4 linked regions of the Homo sapiens genome follow. The protein of the gene in region 1 purifies or fractionates together with the protein of each later gene. This does not show direct contact. Each region holds a gene or a part of one and is shown in the gene's direction. Other genes may lie near its edges.

The links.
Region 2: the proteins of ATP7B (region 1) and SYNJ1 fractionate together in Homo sapiens (co-fractionation; one large-scale study listed by BioGRID). This does not show direct contact.
Region 3: the proteins of ATP7B (region 1) and CNNM4 fractionate together in Homo sapiens (co-fractionation; one large-scale study listed by BioGRID). This does not show direct contact.
Region 4: the proteins of ATP7B (region 1) and ATP9B fractionate together in Homo sapiens (co-fractionation; one large-scale study listed by BioGRID). This does not show direct contact.

What each region holds. Positions count from the first base shown.
Region 1 is NC_000013.11:51,976,300-51,981,751, reverse strand, and holds part of ATP7B (copper-transporting ATPase 2), read left to right. Parts: intron 1-247; exon of another isoform or gene 248-315; intron 316-5,452. UniProt on the Homo sapiens protein: Copper ion transmembrane transporter involved in the export of copper out of the cells. It is involved in copper homeostasis in the liver, where it ensures the efflux of copper from hepatocytes into the bile in response to copper overload.
Region 2 is NC_000021.9:32,627,625-32,632,452, reverse strand, and holds the end of SYNJ1 (synaptojanin-1), read left to right. Parts: intron 1-632; coding exon of another isoform or gene 633-1,458; 3' UTR 1,459-3,690; downstream 3,691-4,828. UniProt on the Homo sapiens protein: Phosphatase that acts on various phosphoinositides, including phosphatidylinositol 4-phosphate, phosphatidylinositol (4,5)-bisphosphate and phosphatidylinositol (3,4,5)-trisphosphate. Has a role in clathrin-mediated endocytosis.
Region 3 is NC_000002.12:96,804,588-96,809,775, forward strand, and holds part of CNNM4 (metal transporter CNNM4 precursor), read left to right. Parts: intron 1-2,608; coding exon of another isoform or gene 2,609-2,694; intron 2,695-3,973; coding exon 3,974-4,155; intron 4,156-4,644; coding exon of another isoform or gene 4,645-4,732; coding exon 4,733-4,930; 3' UTR 4,931-5,188. UniProt on the Homo sapiens protein: Probable metal transporter. The interaction with the metal ion chaperone COX11 suggests that it may play a role in sensory neuron functions. May play a role in biomineralization and retinal function.
Region 4 is NC_000018.10:79,347,580-79,353,031, forward strand, and holds part of ATP9B (probable phospholipid-transporting ATPase IIB), read left to right. Parts: exon of another isoform or gene 1-184; intron 185-190; coding exon 191-346; intron 347-552; coding exon 553-617; intron 618-5,452.

The sequences.
Region 1 (5,452 bases):
TGAATTTTCTCTACTGATATTTACGTTTATCCCCCTGTATACTTAATGTTCATAGAGGTTAATATGGGACATTGATTCTTCCTCAGTGGGGGTTTTAGAGACCAACCCCCACTGGCCTGGATGCCTGGGATGGTTTGGGTGAGATCCTTTCTTGAGTCAGGCATCATTTTTGACCTGTGCCCTCCCCTGTGAATTTGTGGCATCCAGAGAATTCTTAGATAAGGCCGAGCAAGGCAGTACTCATTCCAGATATTCAGGATGTACGTGGTCCAGAGCTGTTGTCTTCTCTGACTTGTGTCTTGTGTGCCTTCTCCTGTAAGTGTGGTTGCCTTGATTAGGGATATTGAGGAAAGTGGAGCGAGTGTGGATATTTTGCTGTAGTTTTCCTGAGGTGACAGATACTAGTGGGTGAAGCCAGGGCTCAGGCAGCTCAGCTCTCTTGTGTGTTAGCCTGGCTTGCTGCTTGCAGGTATGGCTGTTTATTTTCATTTCACTTTTCTGCATTGTAGTCTCTTCCTATAATTAACATGGCTGAAAAGAAAAGGTTACTCTAAAAGTTGTTTTTAAAAAATACAGAGCCTCTCGGATTTCTCAGCAGCGTTTAAATCCCAGCTCTGTTACTTAATGTTGATTTGTGCTCTTGGATAAGCTTCTGAGTCAGTTTCAACAGTGAAATGGTGATAATATCTCCTTCTAGAATTGCCCTAAGCATGAGGGATATAAAATGCCATCCTCATAAAATAACACTCAGAATCATTAATTATTTGTTATTATTGGATCTGCGTGCATATGAAAGAATCCGGACTTTTTTGTATTTTGAATCCCATGAAAGTTCAGATGTGTTAAGTTGTATGGGGGGAGGTGATATATTGGAAAAGTTGCCTTCATGTATAACATGTTTGCCTCATAAGTTGTTATGGGTGTTATACATCCTTCAAAGTGAAAGAATTCTTGAGGATAGGCAGCAGGGGACTGACTGGTATCCTATTTAAGGTTGATGGGAATCCAAGAGTGATCAAGAGACCTCCAAAGTGGCCAGTGGTCCTTCACTTGTACATGAGTTAGTATTTTTTGATTTGTGATCACAGCCACTTTCTAACAAAGCATGTTGTTTCTGCTTTTTCACTATCAGATTGGCTTTGAAAGCCTTCATGAAAACATGCCACCCAGTTTCTGATTTCTTCATATCAGAATGGCTTATCCAGAGATTTTGTTTTCCTTTCTGGCTTCATCTTGGTGAATCAGTAGTTATTTTTTTAACCTATATTTTATTTTAAAAGCCCTGGCACTCTCAGCAAATTTCGTGTGACTTGGGTACCTAGAGAGGTAGCAGAGAATTGAAATTCACTTTTGGACTCCCTTCTGTGGCCTCCTCTGCTTCCAGTCCTTTCTCATCCTGACGTCTACCATCATTTATCAAAAATTCAAAAGCTAGAAAAAGTCATTCTAAAGCCTGGTGTTGGGTCTGCAGAAAATGTCCCAAATGTCTGTCCGTAAGGAGTGCAGAATCTAGTGGGAATTAGATAAACTAGGGCTTTCACAAGGCTTTCTGGGATATCCATGTGGAACCTTGGCCTGCTCTCCATTTCTGTGACTCTTTGATGGGCCCTTAAATCTAAACCTGTGTTTGTTTTTTAAAACTCATCAGGAGAGTTTTTTCCCCCAAGGATCATCTTAATTGAAGAACTGAATTAAAAGCATGCATATGCCCTGTGTCTACACTTAAAACTATCCAAACACTACCAGTTGTTTAATGAGGTTGTTCCTAGACCAACAGATACTTTAGTGTTTTGTAGAGATATGTTATTTGCAAGGCTTTGTCTTCTGTAACTGCTTGGCCTTAAAAACCTGCCTGTCTAGAAAGGGGGGCCTCTGAGTAGTGTTTGATAATAAGAAATTGCTTTCAGTACTACTGCAAACCCTTTTGGCAGAAACATAGAATCAACATTCTAGAAATTAAGGGCTGCTGTTATGGTTTGGGGTTTGTAAAGTTGTAGTTGGAGCGAGGACCAAAAAATGTAAACTGGGTTATCATGAGGGATTTGTTTTTCCAACAAACTAGATGGTTGAGGGTTATGTCTTTCTTATTATGAGGAAGAGGTTTTTGCCTAATAAGGTACTATATGAAAATGAATGTCTTTGAATATCTTCTTAGTTTTTCTTTTATCCTTGGTTCTTTTTTAATTAAAGAAGTATTTAATTAACACCAACTACAATCAAGTCACTGTTCTGAGTCTTCTTTGTGCTCATGTTATTTTAATTTTAAATTAATTTTTAGATTTTGGTAATGTGTGTATTGTACAGTTAAATTATATAGTGAAAGTAATTCTCTGTATCCCAGCCACCTGGTCCCCTTCAGCTGCCTAATCTTCCTCAAATTCTGTACTAGCTTTTGCACTGTCCCAGAGATAATCCATGCCTATACAAGCATCCATTTGTATGATATTCTCTTGTTTCACACAGGTAGTCCTAGCACCATGACAGAATTGTAGCCCTCTCAGTGAACTACACACCCTTGTATTCAAGCTCCGTGTAATTCCTGCCCATATTGACTGTGCTTGGCCGTGTGACTGGTTTTGGCCAATGGGTGTTAGCAAGTGTGATGCAAGCAGAGGTTTGATAAGAGCTTGCACTTTGAAATGTGTTCTAGAGGAGTGCTTGCTATTGTGACACTCCCTCTCAGTACCCAGAAGCCCCCAGCTGTGAGGTCCCCACCTAGTCATAAAGAGAAGCCACATGGAAGAGAACCGGGTCCCTGCCAACAGCCTCATCTGAGCCCCTAGCCGGCAGCAAGCATCCACTTGGCAGCCATGTGATGAATGAACTATCTTCTTGGAAGTGGAACTGCCAGCCCCATTCAGGCCACCCCCAGTGGTGCTATGTGGAGAAGAGACAAGCTTTCCCTGCCAAGCCCTGTCCGAATTGAAAAATTGTGAGCTGTTGCTAGTAATGTACTAAAGTTGGTTTGTCATGTAGCAACAGATAACAAACACATGCTATATATATGATATTTTCTGTGCCTTGCTTTTGTTGCTGAGCAGTATATTAGATATCAGCTTATTTCATTACATACAGAGTCACATCATTCATTTTAAGAGCTGAATAATATTCCATTTATGGCTGTACAGTAATTAACTAGCCTCTTATTGATGGACATTGATGTTTCTAATCTTTCTCAGCATTTAATATCTCCATGGCATGCTTTGTTTTGCACATGAACAAATATATTTATTGGGTAAATTCTTAGAAGTAGAGTTGCTGAGTAAAAGAGTACGTAAATTTGTAATTTTAATAGGTATTGCAAATTGCCCTCCAGAGAGGTTACACTCCCACTAGCAATGTAGGAAGACTGTGCCAGTGTGGTTGGAATGTTACATTTCTTTTTAATATTTTCCCATGTATTTTAAAAACCATATGCATTTCTTTTTTGATGAACTGTCTTCTTTTTTGTTTGGATTGTTGGCCTTTTTCTTTTTTGGAGGAACTCTCTGTATTTAAAGAAATTAACTCTTAATGTATGCTATGTGAAGCAAATCTTTTTTCCCCCAGTTTTTTATCTTTTGACTTCATTTGAATAATTTTTTGTCCTTATTGTGTTTAGTTATGTCAAATCTTTTATAGCTTTTGGATTTTCTTGGTTTTGTTCTGGTTTGTTGGTCATATTTAGGCTTTTCTCACTTTAAGATTATTGTAGATATTCTCCTGTGTTTTCTTCTAGTGTTTTTGTTATTTCTTTTTTACATGTTAATCTTTGATCTGCCTGAAATGTCTTTTGACGTAGACGTTTCCAGGTAGGTGTCCGAGGTGGCTAGTCATTTGTCTGTTAATATTGTTATACCATGTCATCCTTACTATACAGTCATGATGCTTTAGTCAATGATGGACTGCACATATGACACTGGTCCCATGATATTACAATGAAACTGAAAAATTCCTATTGCCTAGTGATCTCGCAGCTGTTGTAATGTCATAGTAATGCATTACTCATGTATTTTTGGTGAGCTGGTGTAAACCAACTTACTGTACTGCCAGTCATATAAAAATAGAGCACATACAATTCTGTACAGTACATAATACTCGATAATAAATGACTATGTTACTGGTTTATGTATTTACTATACTCTATTGTTATTTTAGAGTGTACTCCTTCTACTTATAAAAAGAAAAAGTTAACTGTAAAGTAGCCTCAGGCAGGTCCTAGGAGGTATCCAGAAGAAGGCATTGTTATTATAGGAGATGACAGCTCCATGCCTGTTATCGCACCTGAAGACCTTCCAGTGGGAGAAGATGTAGAGATGGAAGACAGTTATACTGATGATCCTGACCATGTGTAGGCCGAGGCTAATGTATGTGTTTGTGTCTTAGTTTTTAACAAAAATGCTTAAACAGTTTAAAAATAAAAAAATTTTAAAAGCTTATAGGATAAGTATATAAAGAAAATATTTGATAAAGCTGTCCAGTGTGTTTGTGCTTTAAGCTAAGTGTTATTACAAAAGAGTCGAAAGTAAAAAAAAAAAAAATTAAACGTTTATGAAGTAAAAAAGTTACAGCAAGCTGAGGTTAATTAATAAATTATTATTATTGTTTCAGAGACAGGGTCTTGTTTTGTCTCCCAGGCTAGAGTACAGTGGTGCAATCATAGCTCACTGTAACCTTGAACTCCTGGGCTCAAGCAGTCCTCCTGCCTCGGCCTCCCAAAGCATTGAGATTACAATGAGCCACTGTCTGGCTATGTTGATTTATTGTTGAAGAAATAAAACTATTTTTTATAAATTTAGTGTAGCCTAAGTTTACAGTGTTTATAAAATCGACAGTAGTGCAGTGTCCTAAGTCTTCACATCTACTCAACACTCATTCACCGACTCACCCAGAGCAACTTCCAGTCCTGCAAGCTCCATTCATGATAAGTGCCCCATACAGGTGCACCATTTTTTAATCTTTTATATTGTGTTTTTACTGTACCTTTTCTATGTTCAGATATGTTTAGATACACAAGTACTTACCATTGTGTTACAATTGCCTACAGTATTCAGTACAGTAACATGCTGTACAGGTGTGTGGCCTAGGAGCAACAGGCTACACCATACAGCTCAGGTGTTTGGTAGGCTACATCAGCTAGGTGTGTGTAAGTGACTCTATGATGGTCACACAACGATGAAGTCACAATGATGACTCATTTCTCAGAATGTATCACCATCCTTAACATCATTAAACATTCATGTATTTACTGGATTCAGCAATATCTTTTGAACTGCTGTCCCCCAAATTACTTAATTATTCCCTTTTTTCTCTTAGGAAATGCTACAGTGAATATTTAAAATTCTATGTAATTATTAATCCCAAACCTTTGTGGATATAGAAATCAACATTTATATAGTCTGCATTTTACAAGTTATTTAAACATTTGTGTTGTTAAGCTGCTCAAAAGCCGGTTGGCAAGGTCTGCATTTTA
Region 2 (4,828 bases), on another chromosome or scaffold:
AATCGTGCCATTGCACTCCAGCCTGGGTGACAGCACAAGACTTGGTCTCCAAAAAAAAAAAAAAGAGGGGGTGGGCAAAGAACTCTCAAAATTTATTTTTCCAAGTAGAAGACAGAAAGATGGAGTCTTCGTCTTAGGAATAAAATATGCTAATAGAATTAATTTTATCTATAAAATTGAATTTCCATAGTAACATTAATTTTAGAAAACACACTTAAAAGAACAATGAAACCACATCATCATCATAGATGGGTGTTAGAATTTTATTTATATAGATTTAGCATAAGTTATAAGTATGGATTTCTTAAGTTCATGCTGAAATGTGATAGAACTGGGCATGAACAAATTTGTTAATTCTGTACAATTCTCCTTCTTACCATTTCAAAACTTGCATGAATGAAATAAGCTCTTTGATTTTGAGGGATTTAAAAATGGATTTAATTAGAAAGGATTTATTTAGAAAGAAGTTTTTAAAGACTGTAGGTGTTTCATGTTATTTAAACCACCGGAGTAACAAACTACACAAAGCTACTTTTTAGTTTCTAAATTTACATGCTTGCCCCTAAAAGGGAAGAATAATTGAGACAGGAAGAATAGGGGGTATTAAGAGTAAATATAAACTGATTTTTCAGTGCTCCCTTTCTTTTGCAGGTAAAAACAAATGGAATCTCTGATGGCAAAAGAGAATCACCATTAAAGATTGACCCATTTGAAGATCTGTCATTTAATCTGCTTGCTGTATCAAAGGCTCAGCTATCTGTTCAAACGTCACCTGTTCCCACCCCAGACCCAAAGAGGTTGATTCAGTTGCCTTCTGCAACGCAAAGTAATGTTTTGAGTTCTGTAAGTTGCATGCCAACAATGCCTCCAATTCCAGCTCGGAGTCAATCCCAGGAAAATATGCGAAGTTCTCCAAACCCATTTATTACTGGCTTGACCAGGACAAATCCTTTCAGTGACAGGACTGCTGCTCCTGGAAACCCATTTAGAGCCAAGTCTGAAGAATCAGAGGCAACTTCATGGTTCTCCAAAGAAGAGCCCGTTACTATCAGTCCTTTCCCTTCTCTGCAGCCTCTTGGTCATAACAAAAGCAGGGCTTCATCTTCACTTGATGGCTTTAAGGACAGTTTTGATCTACAGGGCCAGTCTACATTAAAAATTAGCAACCCGAAAGGATGGGTAACCTTCGAGGAAGAAGAGGATTTTGGTGTGAAAGGGAAGTCAAAGTCAGCTTGTTCAGACTTACTGGGTAATCAGCCAAGTTCATTTTCTGGCTCCAACCTGACATTGAATGATGACTGGAATAAAGGTACAAATGTCTCCTTCTGTGTGTTGCCGTCAAGAAGACCTCCTCCACCTCCTGTCCCTCTGCTCCCGCCCGGCACCAGCCCTCCAGTAGATCCTTTCACGACCTTGGCCTCTAAGGCTTCACCCACACTGGACTTTACAGAAAGATAACGCCATGCAATAGAAAACAGTGGGTACTTGCTTTTGGCAGGATAGAGCTAAGAGAATTGGGCATTAGTATTTCATTATGTGCAATAAGTCATTGTAAGTGCACTGATATCTTCACAAAACACCACTATTTGATGTGTACAGAGTTGGACTATGTGTATATTGGAAATAAGGAAAAACCCTTCTCATTGTTAACTGGAGTTTTGATGTATTTCTCTTTGGATGAATAGGAGACAGTAGTAGCCATAAAAAGTACTTATACTTTAGAAAACAGTCCTTATTCAGAAACTTTTCGGTCAGTCTTCTGAAGAATCTCAAAAAGCCCACCCAACTTTCAGCTGACATTTCCACCAGCCCTCTCATACTTGTTAACAATTGGTATCTTTGAGTATTTACCAAAGAGCTGCCAAGGTTACAGTGAACAGAGTTTTGAAAGGCATTGCTTTAAAGGAAAAAAGTATAGGTATGTGTACATATATAATACATACAAACACATGTACTTCTGTATACATTTACATATTTTTACAATTCATACTTTAATTTCTAGGCTATAACTCAGACCAAATTATACCTAAAAGTTCCAACAAAGTCCCTTTTTCAATATCACATTACCAAAAAGATGGCTGCAAATGTAATTTGGACCTTTCATTAATTTTGTTTTCAAAACTAGAATAATCTCACCACAGAATCAGAATTTTCTACCGTTCCACACCCAACCCCTTCAAATACACACAACCTTGTTACTTTTCACTCCAGCACCTTCATACGCTTTTCTCCAGGAGGAGGTTCTTGCAGCTGGAAACAGCCTATTTTGTGGTCACTGTCAAGTGGATGGATATTCTAGCGCTCCCAAAAAAGCACTATGGCCTTATATGCAGGGAAGGCACATACCACCAAGTTCAATGAGAAATATTAGAGCTAACCGTACTCTCTTCTCTGCGTACGTTCGAGTATACGTTGCCCATATCCCTCCCATATTTTCTTTTTGCTGCTTTTGCTCTGGAACTTTGCTTTTAGCAGGGAAAGCAGCTGTCCCCTGAGTGCTTTGAATTGGGAATATACCCAGTGTGTGTTCTCCCCCCTCTTACGAGGCTACATAACACATCTATGATGCTGCTTTAAGTTTTTAGAGGCTATACCTCAAAGTAGCTGCGGATTTTGTCTCCTGCACTGCCAATATGCAACTGATCCCGCTTTTATTAATTTTTTGAAGAAGTACACAGAATTTTTACAGAATGTAGTATTTTGATATCATTAAGTAAACCAATCAGAAAACTCCTTGAGCAATAGTTGTTTCTTTGTCAGTTTCAGTTACAATCATCTTTACCCATTAAGACTTACATTAACATTCCTTTTATATAAAGAGTTGTATATGTCCACCTAAATTCCTATGTCCACACTTAACCTTTAAAGATGTACATTGAGGGAATATCAAAAAATAGCGTTCATGGCTACGAATATGTAGAATGTTAAAAGCACAGCAAACTGCACTGCACTTATAAAGCAAATCTATTAGAAAAAAAGCATTTTTCTAAATGCTCAAATGTTATCAAAATACTATATTTATAGAAGTAATCTTCTCTGTTAACAGCCAAGATTTGCTGTTAGAAATAACTCTTGTGAGTTTTATATTGTGCTTTTTGGAGGTTCTAATCATTTCAGCAGTAGCGTCTTAAACAGCAGTATTACTATAAGCAGTTGCTTCAAAATGTGAATTAACTTGTTGAAACTGTGGCTTTAACATCCATGTGACTAGTGTATATGGTATTTGCTCTCCATTAGCAAAATAATTCATTGTTAGGTAAACTTCACTAGTGCAAATTGCAGATCTGTGAGCAATGTTTCCTATTGAATATAAACTACTGTCTAAAATATACATATCAGCAGCCCAGCCTTTATCAGGAAAATTATACTTGGCAAGTTGCTGAAAATGCACAAAGTTATGAAAGTTAAAGGTATGCTGCAAATAACTAGCCATTATTCTATGTATTATTAAATATTTACTAGTTCTGTTAAAAGCAGAGCAGAAGTTAGACACTAAGGATCTCTTTGTGAACTCTGTGTTCTCTATATTAGATTGCTGTTTATATGTAAGAATTTTATTGCTTATGTGGCATACAATATTTATAACTATAAACTTTATAGAAGTACAGTATTAAAGTCAGTGGTACACAGACATTCTGTACATATCCTGTGAAACGTGCTGTCATATGAAATAAATATATCTGTCTTTACCATGCTGACTTCTTTGTTAGAAAGGGAAGAATTTTTCTCAGCCATTTTCCTTGTACTTTACATACACAAGTTTGGTGACGTTCAAACAAAATAAGCTTAACCCTTATTGCCGAATCAGATATTTTAATTCAAGACCTTATTTTCATTTCTCCAGATAGTGCTTCCTCTAAAACTAAGAAGATTTTCCGAGATTACTAATCATTATTAAAAAGTCCATGCCCAGCCTGGCCCACATGGTGAAACCCCATCTCTACTAAAAATATGAAAAAAAAATTAGTTGGGCGTGGTGGTGCAGGCCTGTAATCCCAGCTACTGGGGAGGCTGAGGCAGGAGAATCACTAGAACCTGGGAGGGAGAGGTTGCAGTGAGCCGAGATTGTGCCATTGCACTCCAGCCTGGGCGAGAAGAGCGAAACTCTGTTTCAAAAAAAAAAAAAAGTCCATGCACTTATTCCATAAGAGAGGCCCTCACGCAAAAACATGCTGACTTGAAAATAATACAAGAAATATGAATGATTTTTCTTACCCAAAGTAGAAGGAACAAGTGGGGGGCAAAGAGGAATTGGGACAAAAATAGCCAATCAGAAAAAGGGACTGCCTAAAGAGACCCAAATTAAAAGGCCAGGGCCGGGCGTGGTGGCTCACGCCTGTAATCCCAGCGCTTTGGGAGGCCGAGATGGGTGGATCATGAGGTCAGGAGTTCGAGACCAGCCTGACCAACATGGTGAAACCCTGTCTCTACTAAAAATACAAAAATTAGACGGGCGTGGTGGCAGGCGTCTGTAATCCCAACTACTCAGGAGGCTGAGGCAGGAGAATAGCTTGAATTTGGGAGGCAGAGGTTGCAGTGAGCCGAGATCACGCCATTGCACTTCATCCTGGGGGACAGAGCAAGACTGTCTCAAAAAAAAGAAAAAGAGGCCAAGGCTAGGCAAGGTGCAATGGCTCATGCCTATACTCCCAGCATTTTGGGAGGCTAAGGCAGGAGGATTGATTGAGCCCAGGAGTTCGACACTAGCCTGGACAACATAGACTTTATCTCTGGTAAAAATCAAAAAAATTAGCTGGGCATGGTGGTGCGTCCCTGTAGTCCCAGCTACTCAGAAGTTTGAGGTGGGGCATCACTTGAGCCCAGGAGA
Region 3 (5,188 bases), on another chromosome or scaffold:
AGACGGAGTTTCACCATGTTGGCCAGGCTGGTCTTGAACTCCTGACCTCGTGATCCACCCGCCTCGGCCTCCCAACGTGCTGGGATTACAGGCGTGAGCCACCGTGCCTGGCCAAATTTTGTATTTTTAGTAGAAACAGGGTTTTGCCATATTGGCCAGGCTGGTCTTGAACTCCTGATGTTAGGTGATCCGCCCGCCTCAGCCTCCCAAAGTGCTGGGATTACGGGTGTGAGCCACCGCACTCTGCCCATGTCACTAATTTGTGTTGGTTTTAAATTCAGTCTCTTGGCCAGGCTTGGTGGCTCATTCCTGTAATCCTAGCACTTTGGGAGGCTGAGGCAGGAGGATCGCTTGAGCCCAGGAGTTTCAAACCAGCCGAGGTAACATAGCAAGACCCTTTAAAAAATAATAATAATAAAATAAATTCAGTTGAAAAAGAAAATAAATTGTTTATTTTAAAAATAAAATTCAGTTCCTGTTTCTAGAGTGTTAGCATTAATTAAAAGCATTCCATCATTCAGATAGCTATGTGAAGTATTAAGTAATACCCCTAGTATTTCTGCTTTTCCTAGAACTTAATCAGAGATGTTACTCATTAGATACTTGCACTTGATCCTCTAATGATCCTCTAAAATATTTCCTGTTCTTGCATGGGAATACCACAACCTCATCATAGAATGGCCAGTTTCCTGAGAAACTATAAACTATAAACTGTAAACTAGGAAACTGTAGTTTCCTAGTTTTATAAATAAAAATCAAAGCTTTACTTAAGCACAAAGATAGAGTATTACTCAGTTTAGTCTCTGTTGTTATACCCTGGCTTCTTTTCAGTTTTTTTTTTTTTTTTTTTTTATTATTTTTTTTTAAATTTATTTTTTTATTGATAATTCTTGGGTGTTTCTCACAGAGGGGTATTTGGCAGGGTCATGGGACAATAGTGGAGGGAAGGTCAGCAGATAAACAAGTGAACAAAGGTCTCTGGTTTTCCTAGGCAGAGGACCCTGCGGCCTTCCGCAGTGTTTGTGTCCCTGATTACTTGAGATTAGGGATTGGTGATGACTCTTAACGAGCATGCTGCCTTCAAGCATCTGTTTAACAAAGCACATCTTGCACCGCCCTTAATCCATTTAACCCTGAGTGGACACAGCACATGTTTCAGAGAGCACAGGGTTGGGGGTAAGGTCACAGATCAACAGGATCCCAAGGCAGAGGAATTTTTCTTAGTGTAGAACAAAATGAAAAGTCTCCCATGTCTACTTCTTTCCACACAGACACGGCAACCATCCGATTTCTCAATCTTTTCCCCACCTTTCCCGCCTTTCTATTCCACAAAGCCACCATTGTCATCCTGGCCCGTTCTCAATGAGCTGTTGGGTACACCTCCCAGACGGGGTGGTGGCCGGGCAGAGGGGCTCCTCACTTCCCAGTAGGGGCGGCCGGGCAGAGGCGCCCCTCACCTCCCGGACGGGGCGGCTGGCCGGGCAGGGGGGCTGACCCCCCCCAACCTCCCTCCCGGAGGGGGCGGCTGGCCGGGCGGGGGGCTGACCCCCCCACCGCCCTCCCGGACGGGGCGGCTGGCCGGGCGGGGGGCTGACACCTTCTTTTCAGTTTTATGAAAATAATTAGATGTTTTAGGAACATGAAATTACTAGCTTTCCAGCTAAAATGTTCTCAAATCTACAAAATACAGAGCTACATAAACATGAAACCACTTTTGATAACGTCAGTCATAAAGACTTGAACTCAGACTTCTCTCTCTTTTTTTTTTATTTAATTAGATCTTGGGTTCAGAGTTGAATTAATGATTATCCTCAGTTCACGACCCACTAAGACCTTACCAGGTCCCTCTTTTGTCTCATTTAATTTTTATTTTCCCCTTTGTTCTTCATCTCTACTCTTCTTCCTTCCCTAGCTATCCAACACACACACACACACACACACACACACACGCGCGCGCGCGCGCGCGCCCTTAGTTAAAAATTGTATTGGTCATTGAGTCACTAGATTCAGTATGTTTGTTCTCTTCACTTGGCAATTTGTTAGAATGGCTAACTTAGTAACTTAATAGTTAAATAAGCAAATCAGCTTAGTCCGCTTCCTGTTTGTTTAAAACCATCCTGCATGTCTTCACAATTAACTTCTTTGTGCGTTTCATGGTTTCCTGTGTTCTCAAAAACAAGTTAATGATATACAGTAACGTATATCATTTGAAAAAGCAGTTTCTTTTTCAAAATAAGAAGCCCATTCTTCCTTATTCAAGATTGTTACAACTCTTATTCGAGATTCGAGATTGTTACAACTCTGCCTCATGAGAGGGGAGAAGCGCCTGTCACCCTGACCCGCCCCGGCCAGGCTGGCTGGGTTGCAGGTGGAAGTGGGTAGGACTGTGTTTCACGCTGAGTAGGTTGTGTGCAAAACACACTTTTGACTCCATAAAAGCATTTTCTTTTTTGGGTGTTCGGCGGGTGGACAGAGTGTAGTGGTACAATCTCGGCTCGTTACAACCTCCGCCTCCCAGGCTCAGGTGACCCTCCCACCTCAGCCACCCAAGGAGCTGGGGCCACAGGTAAAAGCCACCACGCCTGGCTAATTTTTGTATTTTTTGTAGAGATGCGGTTTTGCTGTGTTGCCCAGGCTGGTCTTGAACTCCGGCTCAAGCAATCTGCCCGCATCGGCCTCCTAAGGTGCTTACAGGTGTGAGCCACCTCGCCCAGCCCCTGATAAGAGCATTTAAGAGGTGACAGGGCTGGCAGGGCCATAGTGGCTCACACCTGTCTGTAATCCCAGCACTTTGCGAGGTTGAGGCAGGCGGATCACCAGCAGTCATAAGATCGAGACCATCCTGGCTAACACAGTGAAACCCCGTCTCTACTAAAAATACAAAAAAAAAATTAGCTAGGCATGGTGGAATGCGCCTGGGTGACAGAGTAAGACTCCATCTCAAAAAAACAAAAACAAAAACAAAACAAAACCAAAAAAACAAGAAAAAGAAAAAAAATTATCCAGGCGTGGTGTTGGGCACCTGTAATCCCAGCTACTCAGGAGGCTGAGGCAGCAGAATTGCTTAAACCTGGGAGGCGGAGGTTGCAGTGAGCCAAAATCATGCCACTGCACTCCAGCCTGGGTGACAGAGTAAGACTCTGTCTCCAAAGAAAAGGTGTGACGGGGCATCTTATGTGTGGGGTGTGTATTCACAGAGAGAGAGTGCAAACTATACATTCTTCCTTTTAATGCATATTTTTTATTTAAAAGTATGCAGTTTATGTCACTTGATACAAGCTGGTATTGAGACAAGGATGGCAGTTTGCTTGTTTGTTTTGAGACAGAGTCTTGCTCTGTCACCCAAGCTGGAGTGCAGTGGTGCCAGCTTGGCTCACTGCAATATCCACCTCCCAGGTTCAAGCGATTCTCCTGCCTCAGCCTCCCAAGTAGCCGGGATTACAGGTGTTTGCCACCATGCCTGGCTAATTTCTGTATTTTTAGTAGAGATGGGGTTTCACCATGTTGGCCAGCCTAGTCTCCAACTCTGACCTCAGGTCATCCTCCTGCCTCGGCCTCCCAAAGTGCTGGGATTACAAATGTGAACCACTGTGCCCAGCCTAAGAATGGCAGTTTGCCTGTCCTGCTAGGATGATCATTGTGTTGCCCTTGACTGATTGGTTGTTGTGGGAAACGAGAGATTTTGTAGCCATAAACTTTCTAAGTCTGTGGTTTTTATTTTCTGTTTGGTTGATTTGTTTTGGTAGACTTTTTAATACTTGTTGCACAATAGTTCTAAACAAACTAATTCATTTGCTTTAACGAAGTCAGACCTTATGCAGTCAGACCTTCTACATGCTTCTGTTTGTCCCTAAGAATGACTTCCTGTTCCTGGGTGGGGTGTCCCTGGGCTTCCATGGGATGAGGTGAGACATGAGGGTGAGAGTGGGCATCGGAGTGGCCTTTGGCATGACAACCTCTGCTCTCCCTGCAGACCGTTCCCCAGCACACCCCACCCCACTCAGCCGCTCAGCCTCCCTCAGTTACCCAGACCGCACAGACGTCTCAACTGCAGCAACCTTGGCAGGCAGCAGCAACCAGTTTGGCAGCTCTGTCCTGGGCCAGTACATCTCTGACTTCAGCGTCCGGGCACTCGTGGACTTGCAGTACATCAAGGTGAGTGCCTCACTGCCCTGTCTGGGCAGTGCTATCTTCTGCTCAGGAATCAGCTACTACTTTCATCCACCAAACCCAGCATGGTGGGCCCAAACCCGAGATGCCTTTTTCTTCTGGAGATGGGGTCTTGCTCTGTCGCCCAGGCTGGAATGCAGTGGTGTGATCATAGCCCACTTCAGCCTTGAACTCTTGGGTTCAAGGATTCCTCCCACCTCAGCCTCCTGAGTAGCTGGGACTACAGGTGTGCATGTGGCTTCGGGTTTTTTTTTTTTTTCCCCTTATAGAGATGGGGTCTCACTGTGTTGCCCAAGTTGGCTTGAGACTCCTGGGCTCAAGCGATTTGCCCGCCTCAGCCTCCTGAAGTGCTGGGATTACAGGTGTGAGCCACTGTGCCCAGCCCTGAGATGCTTTCTTCTCTTGTTCGTGCACCTTGTTCTTTGTAAGGGCTTCCAGAGACGCTGACTGGTCATGTTCTCTCTCAACTCACAGCCTCAATCCTGGCCCTGTTTCTCCAGGCCTGGTGATAGGGTCTGCCTCCCAGCCCCTCCCTCCATGAACTCATCCCTTCCTCATGCAGATCACTCGGCAGCAGTACCAGAACGGGCTGCTGGCTTCTCGCATGGAGAACAGCCCTCAGTTTCCCATAGACGGGTGCACCACCCACATGGAGAACTTGGCCGAGAAGTCTGAGCTGCCTGTGGTGGACGAGACCACAACTCTTCTCAACGAGCGTAACTCCTTGCTGCACAAAGCCTCCCACGAGAATGCCATCTGACAGGAGGGCCCGGGGCCCCCTGCCCACCCTGCGGGGGCCTCCCCAGTGGGCCCACATGAAGAGAGGGAACCTGTTAGTCCAGAAAGGATACGGATAGATAGCCTGTCTGACTGAACAGCCAGATGGCCCCCAGCCTATGGGGGATCTGGCCTCTGCCAGGGACCTCTGAGTAGCTCTGAGGTGGCACTGTCCAGCCCTGGATAGGGGGGGCAGTGGGCCAGCTACCGTAAGCAAAGGCTGTTTTTTACTGAGAGAATT
Region 4 (5,452 bases), on another chromosome or scaffold:
CTGGGGGCTCTTCCTGCCCCTGTGTCTGAGACCATAGGACCTGTCCCCATCGACGGAGCTGAAGCTTTACAAGTTCTGCAGAGAGAATTTCGGTCTTTGTAACATTTAGGCTGAGTTCTAAAACTCACTTTTGGAGTCTGATTTCCAGCGTCCGCCATGTTTGAAAAGGCCCCGTGTGCTTTTCTCTCAGGAGGGTAAACAGGCCTCGCTGGCGGCCGACTTCTCCATCACGCAGTTCCGGCACATAGGCAGGCTGCTCATGGTGCACGGGCGGAACAGCTACAAGAGGTCGGCGGCACTCGGCCAGTTCGTCATGCACAGGGGCCTTATCATCTCCACCATGCAGGTACTAAGCCTTCTGTGCTGGCACCCATGGAGGGCAGGGTCCAGGAAGGGCAGGGTCCGGGAAGGGCAGGGTCCGGGAGTGGGGGTGCTGAGTGCTGCCGGAAGTACCTGGGCTGTGCTTAGGAGTTAGCGAGGCCCCTGAGAGGCTTGGGGCCACAGGTGCTCGTGGAACTGACAGTTGTCTTCGTCTGTGGGCTCTCTCTCCAGGCTGTGTTTTCCTCAGTCTTCTACTTCGCATCCGTCCCTTTGTATCAGGGCTTCCTCATGGTGGGGTAAGTTACACTCAGAACCTGCCAGCTCATCCAGGGGAGGACTTCTATTTTGAAAAAAAAAAAAAAAAAAAAACAAAAAACGTATATAGAAGATTCTTGATACAGTCATCATTTAGAATGAATAATACTGATGTAAAAACAACATTTTACTTGGGTGAACTTCAAGACAGCACCTGCACACTTGTTCCTCCTGGGATTTTCTTATTAGATTTTGTTTTCAAGTGGAAGCCATAGTTTGTGTCAGGAACTGTGTTGGATCTGAGATTTTTAAAGGGTCCCGTGGCAGAAGGCGGAGGGGCAGAGTGGCCACTGACAGGCCCTCCCGGCTCTCTGCAGGCTGCCCTCCCCTGGCTGGGGCTTCATCCTGTTGTGCGGCGTGGCCAGCAGCAAAGAGAGAACAGGAAGTGCAGGGACATGGTGTGGCATGCTTCGAAGCAAACACTGTTGGTCTCTCCTGGGCAGGAATGGAATCTCATTTTCAAAGATAGCAGCACCAGGGCTGGGCGCGGTGGCTCACGCCTGTAATCCCAGCACTTTGGGAGGCTGAAGTGGGCGTGGGTGGATCACCTGAGGTCAGGAGTTCGAGACCAGCCTGGCTAACATGGCGAAACCCTGTCTCTACTAAAAATACAAAAAAATTAGCCAGGCGTGGTGGTGTGTGCCTGTAATCCCAGCTACTCAGGAGACTGAGGCACGAGAATCACTTGAACCCGGGACGGGGAGGTTTCAGTGAGCTAAGATCGTGCCATTGCACTCCAGCTTGGGCAACAAAGTCAGACTCCATCTCAAAAAACAAAGATAACAGCAGCAGTGTCTTAGAAAAGGACACCAAAAGCACAGCAGGCATGCGACGTGCATTGAAAGCTGAGCTGATTTTGCTGCTGTATCTGCAAAACAGGAGCTTCCTGTGAAGAGGGAATAGGTGGGAATTTCTCTTTTCCTCCTCCTCTGTGGTTATGACTAGAAATGAAATCAGTGTGACTGTTGGTGTTGGCAGCAAACTAAAAGCAGCCTCTCATCTGCCACTGACCTCCCTGACCTCTGCAAAGCTCATGCCCACCTTAACCAGGTTCCACTCCACAAAGAGTCTCAGAAAATACTTGAATAGTAACAGCCACTGGCTTCGATGCTCTTGGCGTTGAACGTGCTTTCATCCTCACCTTGTCCCCACTTCATGTGTGAGAAAAGTGAGAGACCCAGAGAGCTCAGGAACTCACCCGTGGGAGGCCCAGCTCAGACCTGAGTTGTCAGGGGCTGGCGCCGGGTGCTGCTCCTCACCGTCACGCAGCCACTGAGCTTACCCCAGGTCCACAGAGAAACAGAGTCCTTTCTCCCTGCATAGCTGTTTCTAGTCCGCAGTCTAAACACCGTTTCACTCGACAGCTCCCTGAATCCCAGGAGTTCCTCACAATTTTAGCAAAATACAGGGAAATATCAGTCTGTGCGTGTGTTAGGTTTTTGTTAAACATGTGAGGTCCTCTTAAGTCACCTTTTTCCTGAGTTAGAATCACTGAGAGGCGCCCCCGTCATCCTGAGCTGTCCAAGGAGCATGCACAGAGCTGGCACTTGGGTCTCTGCCTTCCTTCCGTCTCCAGTCTTCAGGTCCTCTCTGTCCTCTGGCCTCCACACATGATGTCCCCTTGGCCTAGACCACTGCCAGATGTCCCCATTGTCCTTGCTTCCCTGGGAGGCCCCGCACCCCCCCCCCCACCATGCACCTTCACACCCCCAGGCTGCGCAGTTGTATTACCAGTTAGCGTCCTATTCTCCTGCGTGCTCTACAAGGACAAGGCACAAGGTATATCGGGTCCTCGTACCTGCTGTGAGTTTGTCAGCGTGAACTTCAGTGCATGCGAATTTCAGAGGAGGGCCAGACTCTGGCGGATTCTAGGCCCCCCACCCCAAGCCTCAGGACAGCTGAGCTGTGGGGCTCACAGCTACCAAGACTCCTGGGGCACCTGCTTCGGACTCCACGTCCTTCGCCTGCACATGTTAGCACCGTTCCTCCCAAGATAGCAGCAGCCTGTCCTGTGGTCTTAAAAATCACTTTGAATAAAGTAGGTAAGAGCCTAGGGAAACCTTCGCAGGTGTCTTCAGGCTTCTCTCACCCCTAGCCCTTCATCTTCGCACAAGTGCCTCTGTTTTAGGCCCCTGCCTGCTGTAATCACTCAGGGAATAACCCCCATGATCGTAAGCATTGCAGACTCTCTTTTTGTGGCCCACAAGGAAAGCGCCGTCATCGGCCCTGGGCTCTCCTGGCCGCTGAGGCTCCCTCAGCCCCAGTATGAGGTAGCACAGGACAGCACTGTGCGTCCATGGTGTCAACTTGAACCTTATTTCATGACTCTACGTGACCAAAGAATGTCCCAGCAACCTACCAACTCATAGCCCATACAGTTGATGGAAATGGTGGTAGGATTTGTGCTAATATTCTCAGCTTTCCGTGAATTCCAGTAGTGTTTCCTATAGTACTTCAAACAAAGGTGAAAAATCCTAAAGGTACAATAAGTGCTAACGCTTTTTAAATAAGTTTTCCCATTGCCTACATATTTACAGTAATTATTACATTAGTTGCTTTTTTTTTTTTTTTGAGACAGAGTCTTGCTGTGTCGCCCAGGCTGGAGTGCAGTGGTGTGATCTCAGCTCGCTGCAACCTCTGCCTCCTAGGTTCAAGTGATTCTCCTCCCTCAGCCTCCCAAGTAGCTGGGATTGCAGGCATGTGCTACCACGCCCAGCTAATTTTTGTATATTTTTAGTAGAGACGGGGTTTTGCCATGTTGACCAGGGTGGTCTCGAACTCCTGACCTCAAATGATCCACCTGCCTCAGCCTCCCAAAGTGTTGGGATTACAGGCATGAGCCCCTTCGTCCAGCCTAGTTACTTTTAAATAGTACAGAATTTGCACAGTAATACTGATTGCATCTTGAGTTTGAACAGTGTGTTTCTTCCTTGGAAGTCATAGAAAAGCATAACCCTTCTCACCTTCTTTCATATTTTAAAAATCATGGATTTGAAACATGAAAAGGAAAATGTGGGGGACCATGGAGATTATTCTTTAAAGAACTACTGCTTGGGTTAGTGAGGCCTGTGCCTGCCTCACAGCCCGAGTGCTCTGCAGCGTCCCCAGCTCCTGTTCCTACAGCTCTTCTTTATAATGGGCTTCATGTAAAGTAACTCTGAGTGTCCGTCACAAAAGAAACGTCTGTGACTTTCTTAAGCACTCATACTCTGAATTGGGTTAGGTGGGAGCTTTGGAGGGGCGATGCCTTTAGTTAAGCTTCTTTGAAAATAAATAATGAGTTTGCCTTCACCTAGGAAATAAATACCAAGAATTGAACAAAAATCAACATGATGTTTTTACAAAATAACATCTAACTAGAACAAAATCATGTCTATGATAAACTGGCTCTAGAACCTAGAGGACAGTTGATAGAATTTAATTCCACAAATATGGTTTTCATCTGCATTCATTTCATCAGCTCTGGAGGGAACTGTTGGCCCAGGTGACTTTCCTGAAGCAAGAGGCCCCAAGAGCAGGAAGGACTAGGCATACTCAGTGCACAGCAGGGAAACCCAGGGAGGGACCAGGGACCATGGGGGCCGCAAAGGTGGTGATGGGGAAGCCTAGGGGGATGGGGGATGGGGCAGCAGGAGGGGCTGGGAGAGACAGGACAGCCTGGGGAGGTTCCTGTGACCCCCAAGCCCACTCTGCCCTTGCCCCCCAAGCAGGCCTGGGGAATGCCATGCCCTCCCCGAGAAAGAGAGCTCCTAGGCCAAGTCCTCATGGGGAACCTCTGTAGGGTGCAGCATTGTGCACTTTGGCAAGTTGGAGGCTCTGAGAGAGACTTCTGATCTCATGAGCCCACAACTCATGTTCCACGAAAATGCTTTGGGAAAAGCTAGTCTGAACTGGCCAGAGGTGTCTGTCTCCCCAGAGATTCTGGCAGCTGCCGGCGAGGACCTCACACACAGCGCCACATCATAGCAGCCATTCCTGGGTGTGGGTCTTCTTTTACCCTTGCTAGTGACTCAGATGGATAGCCTGTGAGTGCTCTCGTTAAAGTCAGATTGAACCTTAATTGAGCACCAAGAAGGTGCATGACATTCCGAGAGAGAGCTCTGGGCAGGAGGAGCACAGGCAGGTCCCTCGGGGAGCCGTGTCCAGACCTGCAGGAACGGGAGGCTCTGTGGGTTTATCAGAGAGGGTCTTGAGAACTTCTGCTTCCAGCCGTGATAAACAGATTTATCTTCCAAGCCTAATTAAATGCAAAACACAAGAAAACACGTGAAACAAATGTTTTCAGACATTGGATAAGAAGCTGGGGACAGGGATGCCTCAGAGAAGAGAAACAACTCTCCCACATCTAGAACGAACAGCCAGACGGCCTCAAAACCTCTGTTTCAACAGCCACATGGCCTCGAAACCTCTGTGTTTCAACAGCCAGAGGGCCTCGAAACCTCTGTGTTTCAAGAGTCCTTGTACCTGCTGTGAAGTTTGTCAGAGTAAACTTCAGTGTGTGCAAATCTCAGAGGAGGGCCAGGCTCTGGTGGGTTCTAGGGCCCCCCAACCTGTGCCCAGATTGGCACAGACTTCCTAAGCATGAACATCGTGATGCATGGAGAATAAACTGACATGATGGACTTCATAAAAATTAAGTTTTTGCTCTTCTAAACATAGTACTAATCAAGTAAAAAGGCAGACAAGAGTAAAATACTTTCAGTACATATCTTCAACTCAACGATCAGACAGACAACTCAGTTTTGTTTTTAAGATGAAAGATTTGAACATTCATCACAAAAGAAGACATAAGAATGGTCAGTAAGCACAAGAAAAT